4 linked regions of the Homo sapiens genome follow. The protein of the gene in region 1 interacts with the protein of each later gene in a pairwise test. Each region holds a gene or a part of one and is shown in the gene's direction. Other genes may lie near its edges.

What was found.
Region 2: the proteins of ARL4A (region 1) and POF1B interact in binary tests that used the Homo sapiens proteins (3 or more experiments, as listed by UniProt).
Region 3: the proteins of ARL4A (region 1) and CYTH2 interact in a two-hybrid assay, tested with the Homo sapiens proteins (one study listed by BioGRID).
Region 4: the proteins of ARL4A (region 1) and EVI5 interact in binary tests that used the Homo sapiens proteins (3 or more experiments, as listed by UniProt).

Annotation. Positions count from the first base shown.
Region 1 is NC_000007.14:12,683,480-12,690,632, forward strand, and holds the start of ARL4A (ADP-ribosylation factor-like protein 4A), read left to right. Parts: upstream 1-4,153; 5' UTR 4,154-4,249; intron 4,250-4,686; 5' UTR 4,687-4,775; coding exon 4,776-5,378; 3' UTR 5,379-7,153. UniProt on the Homo sapiens protein: Small GTP-binding protein which cycles between an inactive GDP-bound and an active GTP-bound form, and the rate of cycling is regulated by guanine nucleotide exchange factors (GEF) and GTPase-activating proteins (GAP).
Region 2 is NC_000023.11:85,369,659-85,376,696, reverse strand, and holds part of POF1B (protein POF1B), read left to right. Parts: intron 1-7,038. UniProt on the Homo sapiens protein: Plays a key role in the organization of epithelial monolayers by regulating the actin cytoskeleton. May be involved in ovary development.
Region 3 is NC_000019.10:48,479,351-48,482,834, forward strand, and holds the end of CYTH2 (cytohesin-2), read left to right. Parts: 3' UTR 1-2,964; downstream 2,965-3,484. UniProt on the Homo sapiens protein: Acts as a guanine-nucleotide exchange factor (GEF). Promotes guanine-nucleotide exchange on ARF1, ARF3 and ARF6. Activates ARF factors through replacement of GDP with GTP.
Region 4 is NC_000001.11:92,698,090-92,705,127, reverse strand, and holds part of EVI5 (ecotropic viral integration site 5 protein homolog), read left to right. Parts: intron 1-383; coding exon 384-573; intron 574-1,206; coding exon of another isoform or gene 1,207-1,287; intron 1,288-1,295; exon of another isoform or gene 1,296-1,391; intron 1,392-1,508; coding exon 1,509-1,733; intron 1,734-2,912; coding exon 2,913-2,987; intron 2,988-7,038. UniProt on the Homo sapiens protein: Functions as a regulator of cell cycle progression by stabilizing the FBXO5 protein and promoting cyclin-A accumulation during interphase. May play a role in cytokinesis.

The DNA of each region.
Region 1 (7,153 bases):
GAGAAAACTTACCCATTTCTTATGATTAGTATTTCTTCAAAGTGTCTAATCATTAATTATCTGAAATACTTACTTAAAATACAGATCACTGGCTCCTCTCCTGATGATTCTGATTTGGGGGGGTCTGAAATAGGAGGAACCAGGAATCTATACATTTACAAGCATTAACAGGTGATTCTCATCATTAGCCAAGTTTGGAAAACCACAATTAAAGGTGAGGTTCGCAGAGGCCCTAGTGCCTCAGTACTTTTTCATGGTACCTCAGGCCAAAATAAATAGCCAACATTTCTATTTATGAAATTGATAGATCCAAACTTGATAGTTGTAGTTGTTAATATGGTCCAACAGATGTCACTGTGTTTCCCTCAAAAAGTTAAACTATCCCACAGAACCCCTAGGAATTCTGAGGCACCCCAGAGCACTATTTACAAGCTACAGGCCCTAAAGGGAATTTTTTTCTGGCATAGAATGTAAGTAAAAGCTCTGAATGGGCCTTCTATAAGATCAGGCAACAAAGTGAACCTTGTGTTCCACAAATTCCATTGCTTTTAATATCATTTGTTGCTGTTTTCATATGGTTTTTATATATAGAACAGGCACACCAAACATTTTTCTACAGAGGCAGAGAGCACATTTATTTTGTATGTGTGTGTTGTGGGGGGCATAGATGATCTTGATTGCATATTCTTTTCTTATCCATTCTCTTGCAGCCCTTTAAACTTGTAAAAACCATTCTTATCTCCTGAATTTGACCTACAGGCTGCAGTTTGCCAACCACTACTGTAGTTTTAAAACCTAGGGTATAACATTAAAGTGCAATTCAGTGAGGACGATTCTGCAAGATTGGAAGCCCTCAGTGTTTTTGTTTTCCTTTTTTCCCTTTTTGCTCCAGGGAAGACTGTGCAAGGAACACTGGAAGGACTTAGAGATTTCAAAACTACTGTAAACAGAGGGTGGCCACAGAATTTTCTTGCTCTAAATTCTTGACTTAAGGAGAATCTGCAAGTTATCCCAGTTTAATAAAGAATCCCTATTGAATTTCCAATAAAAGGAAATAGGTTATTGCACTAAGCCCTTTATCAATTATTAGCTGATTATGTGAATGGCTAATGAGATTTCACAATTATAACTAATCAGGCAATCCTTAGTTTATAATAGATTCATGTTTATAGAATATGCCATTTGATATTTCTAGCTCTTATTCCCAAAATTAGTGTGGCTGTCTTGAGATTATGCATTGTGCTCAGAACTTAGGTTTTTACGTCGTTTTTTGTTTTTGTTTTTGTTGTTTTTGAGACGGAGTTTCGCTCTTGTTGCCCAGGCTGGAGTGCAATGCCGCTATCTCGGCTCGGCAACCTCCGCCTCCCGGGCTCGAGCGATTCTCCTGCTTCAGTCTCCTGAGTAGCTGTGATTACAGGCGCCCGCCACCACGCCTGGCTAATTTTTTGTGTTTTTCGTAGAGATGGGGTTTCCCCACGTTGGCCAGGTTGGTCTCGACTTTTTAAAGAATCCGGTATGACAAGTATGCATGTTCCTGTGCTAGTCATAAAAGAAATAAATATCACTGGCAATAGCGGTCTTGAGAAAAACTAGGATATTTCTTGAGGAAACTCCAATCCATATTTAAAAAGAAAAAAAGCACACTTTTAAAAAAGTGTACCATATAGGTTCTTCCAAGTTACAGTCTTACAGCCTTCACCAAAAAGATGTTTGTCGATTAAAGCTTTCCTACAACTTCAAGTCATTACTTCTTTTGCAGGTTGTCATAAGCACCCTGAAATTACCGCTGAAAACATTTTATAAATTTAGTCATCCATAGAGACTCCAATATTCCACAAGGGCAGGGACAGTGTATTTTGCTCACCATTTTATCCCCAAGCACACAGAATTGTGTCTACTGCCTATTAGGTGTTCAATAAATATTTGTGAACTTATTGATCAAAGACAAAATTTAGTCAGAATCATCCAATGAAAAGCATTTTGCATTTGATGACTAGTAGACTTAGATGAACAGTTCCAGGACCACCACTAATTTTCCTTGGGTCATTAGAAACATCCCTTTGGGGCTGCGGAGAGAAAATCCAATCTGGCCGCTGCCCCACAGCCCCTTTCTGTTCTGCGCGTTTGCCTCGCCGTTCTGATGGAGGAGGAGGTGGAGGTGGAGGAGCAGCAGCGATTTTCTTAGCCATTTTCTTACCAACAGAGGCCAAAGGAGGCAGCAGTGGACTACACTGTGGGTTGTCTTTGCGAGGAAGTGGCATTGGGCAGAGATGCAGTTCAGCAAACTTATCATTGCAGCAATTTCGGAGCTGACTTTTCGACAGTGCAAGATCTAGAAATGTGTGCAAGACATGCGAAAACCACCACCATTAACACTGAAGATGTGAAGCTCTTAGCCAGAAGGAGTAATTCACCGCTAAAATACATTCAGACAAAAGTGAAGAGCTTGCGCAGATTAACCTAGAACGAAAGGCACAGAAGACAAAGAAGAGGATGGAAACAAAAATGCAAGGGAGCCAGCAGAGGCTGGAGTACAGGAAAGTTAAGAATTAAACTCTCCCGCTGCTTGGAAAATGCAGCTTTCTGCAGGTAGAGCCACCTAGTATGTATATGGCCACAAAGGGAATTTTGAAGGGATAAATAGAGATTAAAAAAAAAAAAAAGGCTAGATGGCTTTTTGTGTTGTATTTTCCAAGTCGTTAACTGCAAACGCTAGTTTTAAAGAGAACTGGACACTCAATCAAAATACTCCTGTCTCACTCCAGCACATACAAATGGTGTAGTTGAATGGTATATTGGAAATTATATCTATTGCAATTAAAATTGTGTGAGCAATTTGAAAGAAAAGAAAAAAAGAAACATCCCTTTCATCTTTCAGAGTGTATTTCCTTATGTGTCAAACTGGAATATTTCTATCTGTGGCCAGTTCCCCGGGATGCTGCTAGAAACACGTGAGACAGCGCGTTCATTTGCTCTACAAAAAGCGAATGAAGGCGCAGTTACCAGGCCAGTCAACCCAGGCTGTTTAAGGTCAACTACTGGGGGACTTCCACGTCACCTCGATATATACGTAACGCGTGTGTGCCGTAACCCGTGAACTATGGAATCCCTAACCGCGAATCACGTGGCTGCTGCCCCGCGGACGCCCTAGACGACGTGAGGGAAGGCGGTGCCGGGCGGGGCCTGTGCCAGGCTGGCGGGCCGCCGCAGACAGAGCTACCCGGAGCAACCGTTCAGGGGTGAGGCCGGAAGTCCCATCCGACCTCGCGGGCAGCCAGCGCTAGGCCGATTCGAACTCGACCTTGTTTTGGCGTTGCTAGGAGACGCGGCTCCTGCGCGCCCCCTACAGGCCGGCGCCCGGGCGGCGCGCGGGCAGGGGGCGGGGACTGTCGCGTGGAGCTGCCGGGCGAGCACCGTTAGGGCAGCCTGGCGCGCGGCGCCCGCCAGGCGCCCAGTCCTCTGCCATCGCCCACGCCTCCCTGGTGCCAGGGAACAGGTATCAGCGCGCCTCCCCAGCGGCTGGGAGAGACGCTGAATGAAGAAGAGGGAAGGACGGTTAGTCAGGTGAGCCGCGGCGGGGTGGGCGGCCGGGGCGGCCACGCCCTGCCGAGGGAGAAGAGCCGGTCGTGTGCGGAGGGACAGGGTGAAGGGATCCCACTTCGGGGAGGATGGGCTTATCCCGGCGGGCGCGCCAGGTGGGATCTCTAGCGCCTCAGGGGCCCGCGCGGCAACAGCCGGCACCCTCGGGCCCGCGGACAAAGGGTTAACGCGTTGGCAGTGACTGCGGGCCCCGGATGTGAGAGCCTTGGCTTGACGCCCTGGCTGCGCTGCAGGTGCGCCGGGCCGAACGGAGCCGGCAGCCTGGCGGCGACCTGACCGCCCGAGGCTCCCCTTCACCTGCAGCGGCTGCTCGGCTCCCTCTGGGAACGCCGCCTTTTCTAACTTAAGGGCAACAGGTGGTGCCGGTGGACCGAGAGAGAGCTCAGCTCCGCCGCGCTGGGAGCGGCAGTTACCCTCACCAATTAGGGAGCGGGGGCGGGAGTTGCATGGCTTCCCTGATGCGGGTGACCAATGGGATTTGGGATCATGAGTGGACCGGGAGGAGTGGGCGTGGTCGGAGTCTGAGTCCAAGGTTTCTCGTGCGGCAACTGCCAGAGCTGCTTGGAGAGCTAAGCTGGAAGGGTGCTTATCCCTGCGTAGAAACGCCTGCCAATGCTTTCTCATTTGGACCCAGACTCCAGATCGGGAGGTGAGAACGTTGTTATTTTGCAAGGGGTAGGAGGTAATAGTGATCTTGGGTATGCTGTTAAGCATGTGGAATTAGATTCCGAAGATAGGACTATCTGCTATGAGTTTTCTGCCAGATAGGCACTTTGTGGTTACGGCCACTTAGACCAGATACTGGTGACTGGGTTCTTTCCAGAATGAGGTCTTTGAGGTTTGGGGACCCAGGAGAAAAACGTACATATTACTGCAATTTAAGTAAACCAGATAATTTCAATCACTGTTATTCCATCGTTTGTCTTGGACTGTGTGTGTTTTCATGTACGTTTCATATCTCGTCTGGTTTGTTTAGCGCAGCAAGTTATAGTAAGTTCTTCGTGTTGTTTATTTTAGCAAAGTAGAGCAAACCTGTTTTAATGTATTATTTCGGGAGAATAACTTATTCCTTCTTCCGTCTCCCAGCAGTCTTATAGCTGGATCAGCTACCAAGAGAAGTTGTAAACCAAGAAGAGAAAAGCATTTCAATTTGGGACATTTATTTGCACCTGGAAATGGGGAATGGGCTGTCAGACCAGACTTCTATCCTGTCCAACCTGCCTTCATTTCAGTCTTTCCACATTGTTATTCTGGGTTTGGACTGTGCTGGAAAGACAACTGTCTTATACAGGCTGCAGTTCAATGAATTTGTAAATACCGTACCTACCAAAGGATTTAACACTGAGAAAATTAAGGTAACCTTGGGAAATTCTAAAACAGTCACTTTTCACTTCTGGGATGTAGGTGGTCAGGAGAAATTAAGGCCACTGTGGAAGTCATATACCAGATGCACAGATGGCATTGTATTTGTTGTGGACTCTGTTGATGTCGAAAGGATGGAAGAAGCCAAAACTGAACTTCACAAAATAACTAGGATATCAGAAAATCAGGGAGTCCCTGTACTTATAGTTGCTAACAAACAAGATTTGAGGAACTCATTGTCACTTTCAGAAATTGAGAAATTGTTAGCAATGGGTGAACTGAGCTCATCAACTCCTTGGCATTTGCAGCCTACCTGTGCAATCATAGGAGATGGCCTAAAGGAAGGACTTGAGAAACTACATGATATGATCATTAAAAGAAGAAAAATGTTGCGGCAACAGAAAAAGAAAAGATGAATATCAATACCTATTATATCTGTGTGGAGTAGGTTTTCTCTGGTCTGATTTTGACAAATAGAAGAGTGTCTACAGCGTGGTTTGCCTGTCTGCCCTCCTGGATGCTATTAAAGCTTTGTTTTGTTGAACAATCAGATGCCCAACTCTGTTGCCTTGTGGAAGATGAGTAAATGCAGTGCTTCTTAAAGTGGTCTCTTCTCCCTACCCCACAAATCTTTTGGTACTACCATTTGGGGAAGCCAAGCAAGGATAGTAAATTGACCAGAACACAGTTGTGGGAATTTGGTCTGAAGTTAGTGAAATAAAACTTTAAAGAGTGTCTGCCTAGTGTTTTGTGCTTACATCTTTCGGGGGGAAGCCTTTGCAAGAAAATTGCATACAAGGCTTTGTAACGATCAAGTGCTAATCGATGGAAATGTTAAGGTAGATTAACATATATGCAGTTATATTGATCACATTGGTCCAACCAGTCCTTTTTTGAAGTAAGGGACAAGGAGTAAGTATTTTCTTTTTTAAGTTTCTGCCAAATGATTTTTGACGCTTTCTGGAATCAAGTAATTTAATAGTATAGCTTAATTCTAGACAATGTTTAAGTTGGTCTACCTTTATTAAAAATAAGATATTTGGGGTATATTCAAGTGCATGGATTAGTTTTCCTGACAAAGCATGTTTTGGTGTGTAGTCTTACTTTTTAGAAATAGCTATGCATCGTTCTACACAGGTTTAAAACAACTTTTTTGGGGATTTAGGGCTATTATAGGAATAGTTTGTTGTCAGAAGCACTTTCACTTGAAGAACCTAAAATGATTGACTCATTCATAGTAAATATGGGCATGTAAACTAATAAATATGCACTGGATACATATATGGATTTATGAAGAAGGCGATTTAGTCAAGAGGATGTAATTAAAATATGTGGTCTCTAAAATATTCCAGTTACAAGATATTTGTTTTATTAATATTTGCTGGCTAAAAACAAATGTGGTTTTTATATATTTTTGTAGTGTGTTGAGAAGAGCAAAAGCTTTATAAATATACCTGATGCGCTGTAGAATGAAAATGTAAAAGATAACCTGTATGTGTTCCGAGCTTTAATTTTTTGTTTACAAATTGAACAGTGTTACATGGGCTGTCCAGTCCTGATTATAGAGAGGAAGAAATGGTAACAGTATGGCAGATAAGAATTACAATTATAGAAAATGAGGGGAAAATAACAAACCTGTTTTATGAAAATTCACTGGTGCTGTTTACATTGGAATAAAAAGCTCTATAAGGAGGAAAGGCCTTTATCTAATTCTTATCTACAGACACTTACTTCCAGTGACCATATTTTACTAAATCAGCTTATTTTTTATGTCTAAAGCAACAGCTGTTCTGAAAAATCACCAAAAGAAATGCACTTTGCTAGCAGGATTTGTTTTGGCTTTGGGTTTTGTTTTTTTGTTTTTTTTTTTTTTCAGTGGCATAACAGTTTTTGGAACCTTGATTCTTGTGTCACACAAAATGAATGAAGTAGCTTGATGTGGAGCCTTCATATGTTAAATATTCCTGCACTAGTGATGGTCACTTAGAATGTTTATAGAAATGTGGATAATAACTACCAATAAACTACTTGAGGCACTAGGAGAACAGTATTTGACTTTGAATTTTAATGTATTTCCACTTTTGCTGAAGCTTTTAATCAGATGTGTAAAAACAATTGACCAGCTAGGCTATTTAGTCCCATAGTAGTTCAGATCTGCTTAGATGTGACAGGCATTGAAGGCTGTTTTTTT
Region 2 (7,038 bases), on another chromosome or scaffold:
GCACTAAAATGGTGTTTATGGATATAAACATATTTTAAATTTATCTAGATATATAATGTTACTTTGTTTCTTTAATTAAACATATATTTTATGTTTTTTGGTTATTATTTTGTTTGATTGATAGAGTGTTTCTCAGAGAAAATTAAGTGTAGAAACCAGTTGCTGGTGAAATTTTCTAAATTAATGGTAGAATTAAAATTACTGGGTTTATCTGCATGAACACGTATAGTCAAACACAGATATAATCAAGGTCTCAGATGCATTTTAGAACTGAATGTGGTCTTGCAAATAAATAGAGTTCTAGAAGCTTAAAGTAAAACAAAAATTCTTAGTTCAATCTTTTACAAAGCTTAGCTGTTAACCTACCATCATTAACTCAAAATGAAATGCCTTAAATGAGCAACATTGATATGAATTACTCATTGGGCTAACATTCTTTCCTTCCACTAATTAAGGTTTTCATGAAGTTCGAGGTATTTTTCATGCATACAGAGCAGCTGTATACATGAGAGAGAAAAAATGTGAGAGAGAAAAAATGGATTAAAATAAAATATTTTTAAATACCAGTCATTCACTGAATACATGTTTATTAAGTGCCTATTTTTTAGCAAACACTGTGATTTTCTGGATAAATACCATTAACCTGTCCAGGGAGAGTTCATTTTTAGGACAGACATACAGAGCCTGGTCTGTAGGTGTCCCATGTGTCTATCTATATTTCATTTTAAAGGAGTATTTTGTGTTGTGACCATCAGCATTTTATCAAGTAAAACATGCTTTTGTGAGAGAAGGATTATTTTAGTGTATATGTTATAAGGGTTGCCATTCTTTTGAATTTGAAACTTGCAAAGAAACTCTAGAGAGCAGCCTGGGGGAAAATGTGTGTTTACGAATGACCTCTGTTCTCAACAATTATTCAGCTGGGGCTTACCTTTGTTTATATGATTTTTTTGTGCTTTTTCTTTGGTTGCAAAGATTGTGGATAACTCTTCTCTTCCACTATCAGAAAAGTTTCCCGTTCTGTGGGGAGGGGTGTGCTGCTTTGATAAATTGTTGTTCAAGGGCGTAGTCACTAAAGTGAATGATTGTTCAAGGAAGTGCGCTGCCTGAAAAAAGAATGAGGTCATAGGATAAAGGGGTTGCATTTTCAGCTTTGGTCTCCTCTTTTGTGCTTACAATTAAATGAAGCTATAGAAATTGGAGAGTGCAACTAATTGCTGAGTGAAAATGCCCATGGCAATTGTATCTTGTTTAACGGAGGTCTGATAAATTGCTGGGCCTGTTTTCAGTCAAAGGCACTCATAAGCTGTCACGGTGTGTGTGTGGCAAGATATGAGGGTGGCAAGTGGAAGAGAGGGAAACTGTCCTTTCAAGTTTATTTTCTTGACAATTCATGACAAAACAATTGGGAAATTTGCCATGCTCTTAAGCCCTATTTAAAAGTTAAAACTTTTATTAATAAATATATTTCAGCCAACTTTTTCTTCAGACCAGGGGCTATCCCAGTAGAGGTCATTTTTTGATTTTCAATAAAGTATATATACTCATAATTTTTAAAGACAGAAAGCATGCACTGCAAAAAAGACTGTGTATTTTATTTTCTCTCTGTCTCCTAGTTTTCTTCAGAAAAAGAAGAGAAAGAACCCAATATGGACCTCTTAAATGAGGGATTTGGGTTGGAGAGAAGGAGGAACAGGAAGTAGTTCTATTATACATTCGGTTGCTTTCTTTGTATGACAACAGAAACACAGATTTTATCCTAAATCAAAGAAGTGTTTATTTCATCTAAAGAGAGATTATTATAAATAACATGTTTCTTGCTATATAAGTTGAGTATAACATCTCAACAATAACCTCAGACAGGTGTTTAACTATGTTACATGGCTTTGAAAGATCCTAACAAAAACATCTCCCATACTATTCAGGGAATTTATTCAAATGGAGGTTTGCCTTGGCAAATTCTGTCAGCATAAATGTCAGGTGGTTTTTAAAGATATTGCTTCTTTTGAAACTGTTCAGCCTAGAGTATTTGTAACTCACCATTATTACCTTCAGTGATTCTCATAGTCATTGGGAGTAACAGGAGCATACACAAACCTTCCATGGTTTTCCTTCATGGAATATTATACTGTATATTAGTCTTTATGTAAAGTTTTAAAATTCAAATTAGACAACATAAAGAGTTATACTTTCATGTTAGCAAGTTTCCAAATATTTAGAAACAAAGCCTGCACTACGTATGTAATATTCTCTATGATTTAATTCTCATTACCTTCAGTCTTTCTTGTATGTCTTACACCAGGCTTTTGAGCTCTTTGACCACAGCTATCAACAGGAAAATGAAGCCAACAGGTCTTGACTGAAGAGGTTCAGATTTTGCAGTCTAAAGACCAATTGCAGAGAAAATTGTATGAAGAAAATGCCCAAAAAGGTCTATGTGGAATGTCTCAGGAAGAGCTGTAAATAAATATGCAATCATGAGGTGAACTTTGGCAGAATAGAACTATGAAGCAGTCTAGTTGGAGTCCCTAGGAATATTAATTTTAAAATCTCCACAACTTTAATTACACCTAAGAATATGTTCTCTAGAAAAGTTGCTTAAATTCCCTATACACATCCCATATCACTCCTCTGCTGCAAAAACCTTCAATGACACTAAGTATCTATAAATTGCTTAGTCTGACTTTCAAGGCCCTCCATGTTAGGGCTCCTGTGGAACTTCCTGGAACTCTCCTTCTGGTGTCCTATGTTTTAGCTAAGTGTAAATGATTGTTCTCTAAATAAAGTCCCCAATTTTCCACAGCTATGTCTTTCACTCCATTGCTCTTACATCTGAACTGCTCCTGCTCCTCACCCTCACCAATCTAGACACCCTGAAATTATACAAATTTTTCAAGCCTTTCCTCAAGTGTAACCTTCTGATCCTCTGATTGTCCCAGGTTGAAGTTATCTCTTAGCCCTCAAAACTTACCTAGTGAGCTTCTTATAGGTCTTATGATAGTCTACTTAATTCCTATTTGTACTCATAGTGTTTATGCCCTACATGATTATAACCATGAGAGGGTAGAGATTATATTCTAACATCATTTGTATCTCTTTCAATGCCACTACACAATAAGTAGTAAAGAAACTGCAAGTTAGTAACTTAGTCACATATATAATCAATCCAGTGAAAATAATATTTCATATTAATACATGGGTTTTTTGTTTTTCACAACTCTTCCATGTATATGATTATCTAGTAAACAACTTGATAGAACCTCAACAATTAGATAAAACATGCATTATTATGTTTATTGTACAAATTGTACGATGTACAAATAAAGACAATATTCATTGTGTATTATTTATCTGTTAAACAAATAAGGAAATTGAGACTCGAATAGCTCAAAATAACTTGCCTATTTAGTACAGCTGGTTAGTGAATGCCCTGAGTTTAAAAACCAGCTCCTGATATTTTCATTACATCAGCTATCTCCCTTAATTAACTTTCGATATTCATGATTTCAGTTTAAATTAGTTCACATTTTTTATTTCAACAAAACATTTGATGATTACCCTTACTGTATATTTTCCCATTCTAATGTTCCATTATCAGAATGGAAAATATCAAAAATACATTAGAGGACAAAAATAGTTTTCCCTCTAGTTTTCAAGGTCTTGCTCAGAAATAATCCTAGAATTCAGGGTATATATTAAGTTTTTAAGGTTTTCTTTCTTTCAAAGGAGAATAACACCTTTTGAGCTTCTGCCTTCCCTTCTTTCTTTACTGCACTGAGCTACTCAAAAGCATTTTCACTAAAGTAAATAACTGAGACATTTAGGCCATTTGCACATCATCTGATTTAACTCTGAAAACAGCTTATATATAAAACTGCCCTTTCTGCACATGTACCCCAGAACTTAAAGTATATATATATATAGTATATATAATATAATATATATAAATATGAATAAAATATATTTATATATATATATACTTTAAGTTCTGGGGTACATGTGCAGAAAGGGCAGTTTTGTTACATAGGTATAAACGGGCAATGGTGGTTTGCTGCACCCATCAACCCGTCACCTACATTAGGTATTTCTCCTAATGTTATCCGTCCCCTAGGTCCCCATCTTCTGACAGGCCCCTGTGTGTGATGTTCCCCTGAAAACAGCTTTTTTAACAAATAGGTGGAAATAAGATATACTTTTATGAATAATGAATTCTCTAGGGAAACCAGAGTTTCCTAGCTCAGATTTAGTGTGTACAAAGGTATGGACAATTATCTCAAGTGATGTAATGAAATTATCCCCAAGCCCACATAATTATAAACCAAATTCTTTTTCATTTCTTTTTTTTTTTTTTTTGAGACAGAGTCTCGCTCTGTCGCCCAGCCTGGAGCACAGTGGCACGATCTCGGCTCACGGCAAGCTCTGCCTCCCAGGTTCACGCCATTCTCCTGCCTCAGCCTCCTGAGTAGCTGGGAATATAGGCGCCCGCCACCACACCCGGCTATTTTTTTGTATTTTTAGTAGAGACGGGTTTTCACCATGTTAGCCAGGATGGTCTCGATTTCCTGACCTCGTGATCCGCCCACCTCAGCCTCCCAAAGTGCTGGGATTACAGGCGTGAGCCACCACGCCCGGCCCCAAATTCTTTTTCACCAGACTCTACTTAAAGTTGCCAATAAAGTATAATGTTTGTGTATATAGCAAGTCTGACCCACAGGAATAAACGACTCAACAAAATGCTGAATATTTTATCAGAAAAAGTAAGGTCTTCCTGCAAAATTGAAGAGATTAGATGATATGAGCATTAAACAAAAATTCAATGGTTTATTGAGTTTTAGAGGCTTGTGAGTACACTCTGTAAATGTACCACGCGTTTTACAAATTCTATTGAGTTTATGGAAACTTAAATTATCTAATCAAGGCTGTTCTCTCACACAGCTACTTGTGGGTGGGTGTCTTATTTTCAGGCCTCCAAAGTTGCTTTTGACACTGAATAATTTTAAAAGTCCCAGTATTTGACCTTCTGTTATAAGGACTAGTCAAACTTAACCATATAATTAGGTTACACAACTTGAAAAACAGAAAATATAATGAAGCAAGCAATAAACGTGGCAAAATATGGTGATTAAGAGCATGAGTTCTGGAGTCATGCTGAGTTGGAATTCCAGCACCTTAGCATTAGCTGTGTAATCTCCATCTGGTTACCTATCCTACCTCTGTCTAACTTCACTTGTTTATGTAATGGGGTTATAATAGTATCTTCTTTATGGGGTTATTTTGAGTGTTAAAGAGAATGATCTATGTAACATGTTTGGCACAGAAAGCTATTAATAGGTGTTAGTCATCATTATAATCATCATCAAAAGGAAAACAATACTGACAAGTTTAAAAAATTTGAAATTGTTTTGTTTGTATGGAAAAATAAGTTGGGAATGGTCTCTTATATTCACAGAACGTCAGAAACAAACTTAAAGATCCTCTAATCCACACTCGCCCACACCCATATCCCATTTCTCATTTCTCACATGAGGAAACAAATCTCAGAGAGAGAACATGAGTTGACCAGTATTACAAAAGTGGCTAGTAGTATAAATGGGAATAAAATCCAGGTCTGCTGACTCCAAGTCTAGCACTTTTTCCACTATGTCATGATAACCACCACCACCCCATTATCGCCTTCAATTATTTGGTCATCAGGAATGTGGGGCTGTGGCACAAAAGGCATAAAAACAAAAACATTGACTGTTCATTGAATTTAATAGTTTCAACATGAAGGATTTAGGTAAGCTATACACAGATGAGTAACAAAATTAAACACTGACTGATACAGGTTATTAAGAGGGAGATTTGGATTGTTATTCCTGGAGTGCTTTTAAAACTAAGATCTCCTTTTCATTCATTCTTTCAAAAATATTTTGGATCACTTTCTATGGAATGGTCAATGGCTATTTATGGGATGACTTGCTGCAATCTTGCCTAGATCTTGATGCCATTGAAAGTACCTTTCAACATCAAGGTTTTGTTCATTCTGGACATTTACTCACACCATCTTACTTAATTTTGTAGACTTCCAGGGAAAAGGGGTTTTCTTTAGCAAGTATTTCTGGAATTAATAAACCTATTTTCAGAGAGGTTTTCCCCCTTATGATCAGCCTAAATCCATACTGATGCAATTTAAATTCATGCTGTTCAACACCATATGTCTAAATATCTTTGACTCATATTAAGCTACATCTTAATGTTGTAATTTTTGAACCTATTATATTTGTTCTCTAATGTTTCCATGAGGGTTGCGTGGGAAAGCCACATTTGTCTAGATGATCAATTTTAATAATGAAGGCTGAAGTAGGGCTAAAAATAATTGAGTACATTATAATCTATGGACTTAATGTTCCAGCTTTCCACATATAAGAAGATTAAAGAATTCCTTCATTTTAGGGCAAGACTAGTCTTTGCTCAAATACAACTGTTTGCCATTTAAACATCTATTATCTTAACATCTGAATAAAGTAATACTGCTTATACTAGCATAAATAAATGTCTTTATCTGTGATGTGTGATGTGTGTGTATTCCTATTTGTTTAAATTTCTGCAGATTTATAAAACTTCTTAGTACGCTTTTGTATCTTAAAAGCTAGTCCAGTTGGCTAGTAAGATTTGCTATGTTTCATTTGCTAATGCCATCATATTTGAATTGGTTACAAGAAGGACAGAGCTATCATTTCTACAACAGCTACCAGATACTAACCATGTGTATAGTTGTCTTCTCAGAATGATACTAGTATAATATTATTAGCCCCAGCCTAAACAGACCAAACATCCTCTAGACATGAATACCTTCACACACTGCTGGTGGATGTATAATTATCATAGTCAAATTTGGGAAATTAGTTGGGCAGTATCTGTTCAAATGAATAACACACATACTCCATGCCCCAGCAATCCCAATTCTGTGTGGGATTCTAAAGAAACATGTTGCACAAGGATGCTCATTGCAGCACAGTGGAAACCTGGAAACAATATAAATGTTAATCAGCAGGA
Region 3 (3,484 bases), on another chromosome or scaffold:
ACGCTGTTGGTAATCTTATTAATTATTTAACCACTTGGCCTGCTGACCCCCTCATTTCTTGGGGTTGACAGAGTCGAGGTGCTCCGTGGAGCCAGCCTGTTTCCCTGGACAGGGGCCTGGACCCGCCTGTCTCTGGGTGCTGCCTGGGCTGTCCCGGTGGGTCTGTTCTGGTTTCACCCCGAGCCCAGCAGGAGTGGAGTAAAGGGAGAAGGTTAATATGGTGGGAGTCTGGAGTTGGAATTGGCCGGGGACAGAGTTTAGAATGCAGGGATTCAGGGTCAAGGTCTAGCATTCATTCTAGAAGTTACTTGACAGCCATCAGCCAGTTACGCTACAGCCATCAGCTAGTTCCCATCGTTGCTTTCATGGGGCTTGAGGTCTTTGAGGGGCAGGAGATGAAGCTGGTGAGGTTGTGAGCTGGGCCAGGGCTTTGAGGACAACCTGGAGCTGGAAGAACATGCGACCACCTCAGGGAGGGTCAGGGAAGGATGAGTGGGGAGGTGGCCCATGTCCTGCAAGGGCCTTGCTGATGGGATGTCCTGAAGGGCTGGGCAGCCTTAGATCGGGCTAAGAGGGCAGGACTGTGGGCCAGTGCCAGAGCCAGGCTTGTCTGTTCTCAAAGGATCAGCCTCCTTTGGAGGACATTTTGTGTCAAGGATAGGGCTGAGGACCTGCGTTCTGAACGTCTTTCCTGGGATTCTTGACAGCCAAAGAAATTCGAGGATCGCCTCTATGAAGGTGAAGTCTTGGCATGTGGGGTACCCCTGAATCCTGGGCTAAGGTCTGTGACCTTTTGCCCTCCAGTTGGGGTATGTGTGGTGTCCCCAAAGAACAAGGGCTCGTGGATCCCGAGCAGGGTGCGATGGCGGATTGGGAGGTCCCATGTCACTCTCCCATGCCCGCCTTTGAAGCTGAGGCGCTCTTTAGTTAACAAACTACAAGTCCCAGCAGGGACCGGGACGCGGGTGGGAGAGGCGCCTGTGGCCCCGAGGCGTGCCGCGAGTTGTAGTCCCTCCTGCCCGCTGTGTTCGCTTTTGAGCTCTCCGATGGGATGCGGCGCTTCGGAATTTCGGGCTTTGATCCCTGTCCCGCCCTTGGCCACAGGCACCTGCCGGCCTGAAGGCCCCCGCGGTGGGGGTACCCTGCGCCCCTCCGCGGGAAGGTGGACTACAGTTATCGGCAGGCTGTGCGGCGCCAAAGCCACGGTGACCCAGACCCGAGGTTTTTCCGGGCGTCGCAGTTTCCCGAGACTCCGTGGCGGCGTTTGTCTTCTTTTTCTTAGTCAGATCCCGTACTTTTGTGGAGGGTAGAGGAGGCTTTGACCGCCGCGGCCCCGGGGGCTGGTGGGAAATGGAGTTCCAAATGAGAAAATAGAATTCCCCACTTCTCTTTCCCACAGGTGCCAGGGAAACGGAGTCATCGACCCAAGAAGGTCGTGGGAGATGAGGTCCCAGGGTAAACAGCGGGTCCCGCCACTATGTCACCCTTTCCTGCCGCCTCCCCGGATGAACTGCATGCAGGGCGGCCGGCTCCGTGGCAGGCAGAGGCAGGAAGAGGCGCGGAGCCCGCTGGTGGCGAAGAGGGGAGTGCGGCGGGAGGGGAGGGCAGAGGCAGGCGGCCGGTCGCGTGGGGCCTGGGCCGCCCCAGGAGGGCCTCTGGCTGGATTCTTAGCAGATGGAAGCCGTGCAAGGGCAGGAGGCAGGGGCCTGACGTGTTTGGATTGAGGTTGCAGGAGGGGCCCCTGGCTGCTTCAGGGAGAATAATTTGGAGGCGAGCGGGGAGGTGAGAGGAAGCTGTGCGGTGCAGGATGGCGTGGCTGTGGAGGTGGAGAACGTTGGGCCACGCTAGGAGTCTTGAAAGAGGAGCCAAAAGGACTTGCTGAGAGCCGCCGCAGCTGGTGAATGACGGTGCCATGACTGAGGTGGTCGAAAGGGAGTATTTAAGGGGAAATCAGGCATTCCGTTTTGACCAAATTAAGCTGGAGATGCCTGTGGAACATTCCAGCCAGGCTGCATCACGTCACACTGACCTTCAGCATTGCCCACAGTCCATCTTCCCCCAGGACCTGAGGATTTTGCGTCCGGCTCCCTCCTCGCCCAGGACCCCCAAGCTCCCAGCACGCTTCTGATTTTTTTTGTAGGTTTTTTTTTTTGTTTTTTGTTTTGTTTTGTTTTGTTTTTGAGAGGGAGTCTCACTTTGTGCCCTAGACTGGAGTGCAATGGCGCCATCTCGGCTTACTGCAACCTCCACCTCCCAGGTGCAAGCGATTCCCCTGCCTCAGCTTCCCGAGTAGCTGGGATTACAGATGTGAGCCACCGTACCCAGCTAATTTTTGTATTTTTAGTAGAGACGGGGTTTCACCATATTGGCCAAGCTGGTCTCGAACTCCTGACCTCAGGCGATCCATCTGTCTCAGCCTCCCAAAGTGCTGGGATTACAGGTGTGAGCCACCGCGCCAGGCCTCAGCCCACTTCTTTTGGGTGGCAATGGTTTGGATATCGTTTGTCCTCACTAAAATTCATGTTGAGATTCGAGCCCCAGTGTGGCAGGTGTTGGGATGTGGGGCCTCATAAGGAGCTGTGTGGTCTTGGAGGTGGAGTCCTCATGGATAGATTAATGCCTGCCTTAAGGGGTGAGTGAGTGCTCACCCTTGGGAATTTGGGAATTTGGTTTTCTCTCCCTTGCTTCCTTCAGCACCATGTGATCTCTGTGCACACAGCTGCATCCTTCTGCCCTCCCCCAGAAGCAGCAGCAGCCTCAGGGATGAGGGAGGTCCTCAGTGAGTGCACCTGCCCAGTCTTGAACCTTCCAGCCATCAGAATCTGAGCCAAATCAACCTCTTCCTTTATAAAGACCCAGCCTCAGGTCTTCTGTCAGAGCAACACAAAATGGACTCAGCACGGATCAAATTGTGTCTCCCCCACCCCCACAAAAAACTTTATATTAAAATCCTAACCCCCAGCATCTCAGAATGTGATCTGATTAGGAAATAAGGTCATTGCAGATATAATTAGTTCAGATGAGGTCATTCATGTGGGCCCTAATCCAATAGGATGTGTGTCTTATAAAAGTTTGTACAGAGACCCAGACACACAGAAATGACACCATGTGGAGGTGAAGGCAGAGATTGGGGTGACGCCTCTACAAACCGAGGAAAACCAAAGCTGCCGGCACACCCTCAGAAGCCAGAGACCGGGGACTCATCCTCCCTCACAGCCTCAGGAGCAGCCAGGGCTGACACCCTCATCTCAGACTTCTGACCTCCAGCACTGGGAGACCTTCAGTTTTTGTGATTTAAGCCACTAATTTTGAGGTACTTTGTTATGTCAGCCCTAGATAACTAACCACTCCTCCCTCAGACCCAGGAGTCCAGGCCCAGCCCCTTCTTCCCTCAGACCCAGGAGTTGGGGACCCCGGCCCCTCCTCCCTCAGACCCAGAAGTCCAGGCCCCAGCCCTTCCTCCCTCAGACCCAGGAGTCCAGGC
Region 4 (7,038 bases), on another chromosome or scaffold:
TTTAGGATTGGTTATTTCATAGATTTGTTGTACCTCTTCCAAGTATAAGTTCTTTTTTCCTGAAGCCTACCCAAATACTTTTCTCATCAGATTTCCCCTAATTTGAATTTTTAATGGAGACGAAGGGAAATTATAATGGGGCTAGTAGCTCAAAAATTTTTAACGTAATTTGCTTTTTCAAATTTTCAAACTGCTATAATAGGTGAAAAAAATATAGCAGTAATTTTATTGATGTGACCAAAATTTATTTAAATTATGTATATTATTAAAACTATATTTTAAAACAATGGTTAAATTGCAGTAATAAAGCTCTAAGTATCATCAATGCCTCTTCTAATATCACTGTCCGATTAGATCTTGAACAGTTTTTAATTATATTTTAGATTGTTAGAAACGGATAGTAAGTCTTTAAGATCTGTAAATGGGTCAAGAAGAAACAGTGGCTCTTCTCTTGTGTCGAGTTCATCAGCCTCTAGCAACCTCAGTCACCTTGAAGAAGATTCTTGGATTCTTTGGGGAAGAATTGTTAATGAATGGGAAGATGTACGCAAAAAGAAGGAAAAGCAAGTTAAGGTATTCATGTTCTTTGTTGAAGTTCTTATTCTTATTCCATAGTGCGTCAGACATAACTTAATAGAGGATTGGGAAAAAAACCCCAAATACAACTTCCAAGCTATATATTAAAGAGGTCTGCTTTATTTGTTTTCACTTACTTGTACCCCTAAAAGTTTTAATTTGTAGACATCAGTTGTTACAGAGGTCCTGATCATATAGAAATATATAACTGAAAATTATTTTATTTACTTATTATTATTTTATAAAGACTCACTTTGTTGCTCAGGCTGGAGTGCAGTGATGCAGTCATAGCTCACTATAACCTCGAATTTCTGGGCTTAAGCTGTTCTCCTGCCTCAGGCTCCTGAGTAGCTATGATTACAGGTGTGTGTCACCACACCTCGCTAATTTTTTATTTTCCTTTTTGTAGAGATAGGGTCTTGCTTTGTTGCCCAGGCTGGTCTCAAACTCCTGGCCTCAAGCAGTCTTCCTACCTCCGCCTCTCCAAGTGTTGTGAGCTACTACACCCGGCCCGAAAATTGTTTTAGAAATTAAATTCTCTCATTTTATTGATTCAGAAATGAAGTTGTGATATCCTGCATTCTTGAATAACAGTATTTTCCTTTTTTTTTTTTTTTTTGCCTTCAACAGCCCTTTGAATGTTGGGTACTGTACCATCATTCACAGCTCTGCAGGTTTCAAGTCCATTACCTTAAGAGGTCACACACTGAGGTGAAATGATCATTATTAATCCCCTGACCAGAAGAGGATACACCCAGGGCCCAATCTTACCCTTGACTTACAGGGTTCCCTAGTCTTATTATAAAGCTAGCTTTGTGAGTTACAAATTTAATGATGTCTTCTACTTCATTCCAACCCCCTAATAAGTCTTCCTTGGCTTGCAAGATAGGACACTTAAATAATTCATTTTTGTAATTTTATTTTATTTTTAGGAACTTGTTCATAAAGGGATACCCCATCACTTTAGAGCAATAGTTTGGCAACTTTTATGCAGTGCACAAAGTATGCCAATTAAGGATCAGTATTCAGAACTCCTGAAAATGACCTCGCCTTGTGAAAAATTGATCCGAAGGGACATTGCTAGAACTTACCCTGAACACAACTTTTTTAAGGAAAAAGATAGCCTTGGACAGGAGGTTTTATTTAATGTAATGAAGGTAAGTTTTATTTATTCATTTTTTGAAATGAAATGAATTCCTGGAAGGTTGAAATTATACATTTTTCATGATGAAGCATGACCTCCCACCACAATAATCAGTTGCTTTGGCAGTGAAATTGGTTTTAGCATCATTTTTGCCTTAATTCTTATGCTACATTACTATCTAGTATAGAGAACTTGTTAGAACATTTACTACGTTATTTAGCATTAGTTGATGGAAATGGAATAGCTTAAAAGTCACATATCATAGAGGGATCCTCATGAAAAGGAATAATTCACCATCTGTGAAGTTCAAAACCTGGGATGTGGGTTTCTCCTATCATATCTGTGTTCCTACAGTGAGCAAATTTTTCTGCTTTCTATGGCCAGCACTGTTAAGAGCACTTAGCCCTTGAAAGGTGTACCATTGTCATTTTTTCTTCAATATTGCCATTTCCCTTCCCACAGTTACTTTTTCTTTTAGCTACTTCTTTGAAATACTGACTTCTTGTTAAATCATTTCAATTTCGCCAATCCTTTGCCTTAAACCTAGTCTAGTTTTATATACATCAATATAAATTTTACTTGAATTTTTTTTTTTTTTTTTGAGATGGAGTTGCACTCTTTTTGCCCAGGCTGGAGTGCAGCGGTGTGATCTCAGCTCACTGCAACCTCCACCTCCCAGGTTCAAGCAATTCTCCTGCCTCAGCCTCCCTAGTAGCTGGGATTACATGCGCCCGCCACTACGCCCAGCTAATTTTTGTATTTTTAGTAGAGACAGGGTTTCACTATGTTGGCCAGGCTGATCTCGAACTCCTGGCCTCAGGTGATCCGCCTGCCTCTGCCTCCCAAAGTGCTGGGATTATAGGCATGAGCCACTGTGCCCAGCTCAATTTTACTTGATTTTTAAGCCCTGTTACAAATTCCTTTATTTTATTTTATTTTATTTTATTTTATTTTATTTTATTTTATGTCTTTAGAGCTAGCAAGTTTGGATTGGGAAATTGTCAAAATAAAATTTCATGTAATAAAACATTTGCTTTTTAAATATGTATAGGATAACATCTATAACAAGCAAGCAAGAGCTTTTCTCAAAAATAAATGTTTTTTAATCTGTCTGTCTTGCCAATTTTAGGTTTTTTGGAGAAGGAAGGTATAACTTACCATGTATTTTGAACAACTTTTTTTTACTTTTTAGGCTTACTCTTTAGTAGATCGTGAGGTTGGTTACTGTCAAGGAAGTGCTTTTATAGTTGGATTGTTGCTTATGCAGGTAAGTTAATATAAGTATTAAATGTCCAATGAAATTTTTTATTAAGTTGGATTGGAGAGTTTAAAAAGCATCTTTGTTTTATTAAATGTAAGTGGATATGGGTATTTTTTCCTAGGCATAATTTGAATACAAATATTTAGTTTGCATTTTAAAAGATTAAACATGTTAAAATAACATAGTAATATCTTACCACCAAATGAAATTTCAACTTCATGATAGATACATTTTTACTGTAATATTCTACTAAAGCTTGAATCTACAGTAGTTTAAAATCTTATTTGTTAACATTTAATGAAGAGTAATCTTTTTCTAACCAAGGAGGAAATAATTAAAGTGTTGGTAAGAAAATCTTATTTATATTGTACAACATCTTTAGAGATTTATAGAGAATTTAATTTATCATGGAGCTAAAAGCTTGTTATGCATACCTCACTGCATGCCCTAAAATAGTGGTACTCAGCCACTTTTACCCCCTAGGGATATAACTTTGTTATTGAGTGTGCAGTGGGTTTGGGTGGAATGTTTTCAGAATTCGGGGGTAGGATAATCATAGCTTTGAAGGGAAATGGCATATAGTATTATCTCTTCAGCTTTGTTGAAATGTTAAGTCCATCTTACTCTTTATTTAGTCTCAGATTTTAGTCCTGAAAAGGAATCATGGAGATACTTGGTTTGAGTCATATAGGGTGGTTTTGCAACTCAGTTCTGCACATGCTGTATGAATTTAGGCTAGATTATTTAACCTCTCTCTGAGCCTTAGTAAGATAATACTATCTACTTTCAGATTAGTTGTGAGGGTTATTTGAGGTAATGTATGTAGAAGCCTAGCATGGTGTTTGGCTCATAGGAGATAGGCAGTGAAAGTTCAGTGGCTTACCCAAGATCACACATCCTGGTAGATAAAAGCAAAGTAGGAATCAGAAACCGTTTCCTGATGCTTTGCTTCAGCTTCCCAACTGCTTTGAGTTTTAAAGCTCTTGTTGCTGTCAGGAGTATACACTTTTCTAAGTAGAAGAGACCTGATGTCAGAGACACTGATTTATAATAAAAATAATTTTTACTTTGTGTTACAGCATATATAAGAACACATAAGAAGTGCTCCCAGTGGTTATTGATTTCTAAGTGGAATTAGGTTATAAATAATACAATGCAAAACTAGATTTGTTAATGTTAAGGTATAGTTGTTTAACAAAATTATGATTTTCCAGCTTTGCGCAGTGGCAGTATCGTAGCCAGTGAGGTTTATCCGAGGCGCAATTATTGCTAATTGAAATTATGATTTTCCTACTTTATTTAGTATTGGTAGATCCTTCATTATTGAACTCAGACATCCTTATTATCAGTCTAGTGATTTTTGCTGCTGTTCTATTCCTTTTATTTTCCTGTTAGCTCCACAATAACCTTTTAGTAGTCATTTCTCTTGGGCATCTAAAGAGCAGTTTTTCTCTGCTTGAGGTCTGAATCTCTCAACAGCTGACCTAGCTCTCTAGGAATCCTGTGGATCCTGTGAATCCTCTAGGAATCACAGTTTCCTTCAAGACAGGGCAAGCAGTGGTGGTAGAGATATTAACTTCAATAAGTATTATTACCACCATTGGAGTAATAAATAATATTTTGGTGATTGATCTACTTAGCTGTTGTCAGTGGCAGCAGTATATTAACACAAGAACAGTAGTCACTTATGGCCCAGGGCCATAAGGTAGAAAAGCTCCTCTTTTTGTTTCTAAAGTTTATGCCGACACCTTATGCTATATTCTCCCATAACTTCAGTTTAGAAATGTAACTCAGAGAGTCTGATAAAATTTGCAAAATTAGTACATACTTTATCAAAATGGTTAGAAGTATGTATGTTTTGTATATATCTCACTCCTATAATATTAGGTATATTGTCTGCATTAGACCTTTGCAAAAGACATGGATTCTTATCAGCTCAGAGTCACAGAGAAAGTTATGTAGCAGCACATTGCTCTAGGACTCAAGTGTCTTGATTTCTTTCTAATGGAAAGGAATGACTATAAAACAACTTGGTGTATGCCACTCCGTGTCACATTTTTTCATTTTGTCACCATGGTTTCAATTTTTTTGAGAAGGACCTAGTGATACTTTTTCTGTCTCCTTTTCCTCTTTTGTCAAATTACCTCAACTTATTTTTTAAAATGTTGCCATTAAAAAAAATTCTCCTCTAGTTCCCATATCAATGCTATTGCAAAGAGGAGAGGGAATGAAACTTGTTTTGATATGTTCAGAAGAGAAGAAATTGTTGTAAGACAAAAAGGGAAATTATAATTACATACTGCATAATGACATTTTGGTCAACGGTGGACTGCATGTGTGATGGTGCGCCCATAAGATTATAATACCCTATTTTTACTTTGCTTTTTCTATGTTTAGATACACAAACATGTGCCATCATGTTACAGTTGGCCTACAGTATTCAGTACAGTAACATACTATACAGGTTTGTAGCCTAGGAGCAATAGGCTATATAGCATATAGCCTAGGTGTATAGTAAGCTATATGGTATAGGTTTGTGTAGGTGCACTCTATGATGTTCGCACAATGATTAAATCGCCTGAGGACATATACCTCAGTAATCTCTGTCCCCTTCCAGTGCTGTGGGAGAGAAAAGAGAAAACAACTACCTTAGGAGAGAGCCAGGTTTCAGTGTTGAAATATTCTTAGGGGAGATACAGATTTCAGCTAAAGAAAGAGAGGAACATTTGGAAAAGAGATTGAGGATATAGGTAGACTATTCTGTTGATGGTAGGATATGGGTTCCAGAAAATGCTGTGGAAAAGATTTAGGAAAGATTGGAAATGGGGTCAGATTAGGAGAACAGTAAAATCATTTAGGATGAGAGTCCTGGGATTTGGGGCTTCTCGTAGTGACTGACATAATTCAGTGGGGCTGTGGGGCTTGATAGAATTAATAGAGATAGTCTCCTAAGTAGAATTGTGGCCATCTGTGTTGAGAGGAAGGAAGAAGTGCAGGTTTTGCCAAGAGTGACTCTTGGCCCCCTGTCCGTGGCTGTGTCAAGGCCAGGAAAAATGTCTTGTTATTAGCAGCAGTCTTCAGTAAGAAGAAGGCCTGGAGATCCTTTGGGATGTTCTCTTTTGAAACACACTGGTATAACGGGAATGAATGAGAATTAGCAAATTTTATTATTTTGAGAAAGATGGTTTAACAATTTGGATAGTTATTTGCCTAAGTATTCTGAATATCTTTGTAGCTCTTTACAGAGCTTTCACATTCATTATCTTATTTGATATGATTTCCTAGTGATTTACACATAAAATGTGAAATTGGTACCTTTAAACCCCAATTTCAGATAATGTGAAAACTTAATTTATATGTCCTTTTAATACTTGTACCATGTCATATGATTTTTTGCTCAGAATCCTCAAAAATCCCTCTCTCTCACTTAAGGTAAAAGTCGAAATCCTTACAGTGGCCTCTACAGTCCTCTGCATTTTGGTTCCCTGTTATTTCTCCTCCATGATGTAACCTTCACTCATAGTATTCTAATTTAGTAGTTCTCTATTTGCTGTTTCTTGAGCATGCCAAGTGTGATTCCATTTTAGGACCTTTGTACTCTTTGGTCTTCTGGAACTGTTCTTTCCTCAAATGCTCCCTTGCTTTCTTCAGGATTCTGCTTAACTGTTACCGTATCAGGGGACCTTTCCTGATCTATATCAATAGCCGTGTGTCTCCCCAGCATTCCCTACTTTATTTTATTTCTGTAGCATCCATCACCATCTGACATATATATTAGTTGATTTATTCCATGTCTTGTCTGTCTCCCTCCATTAGAAATTCAGGTTCCTTGAGAATAGAGATTGTGTTTATTTTGTTCACTGGTGTATACCCAGAGAGAGAAAAGTATCTGGCTGTAAATCAGTATTTTGGGTTGAATTAATGAATGAGGCAAGTTGAGGCAGTTGGTTTCAGAGGTTGTAAGATTTGTTTAACTTCTCATTCTTGGTGATAGAATGGGAGACTAGAACTTTCTGATTCTTACCTCATTGCTCTTAACATTGCAGCACACAGCCAC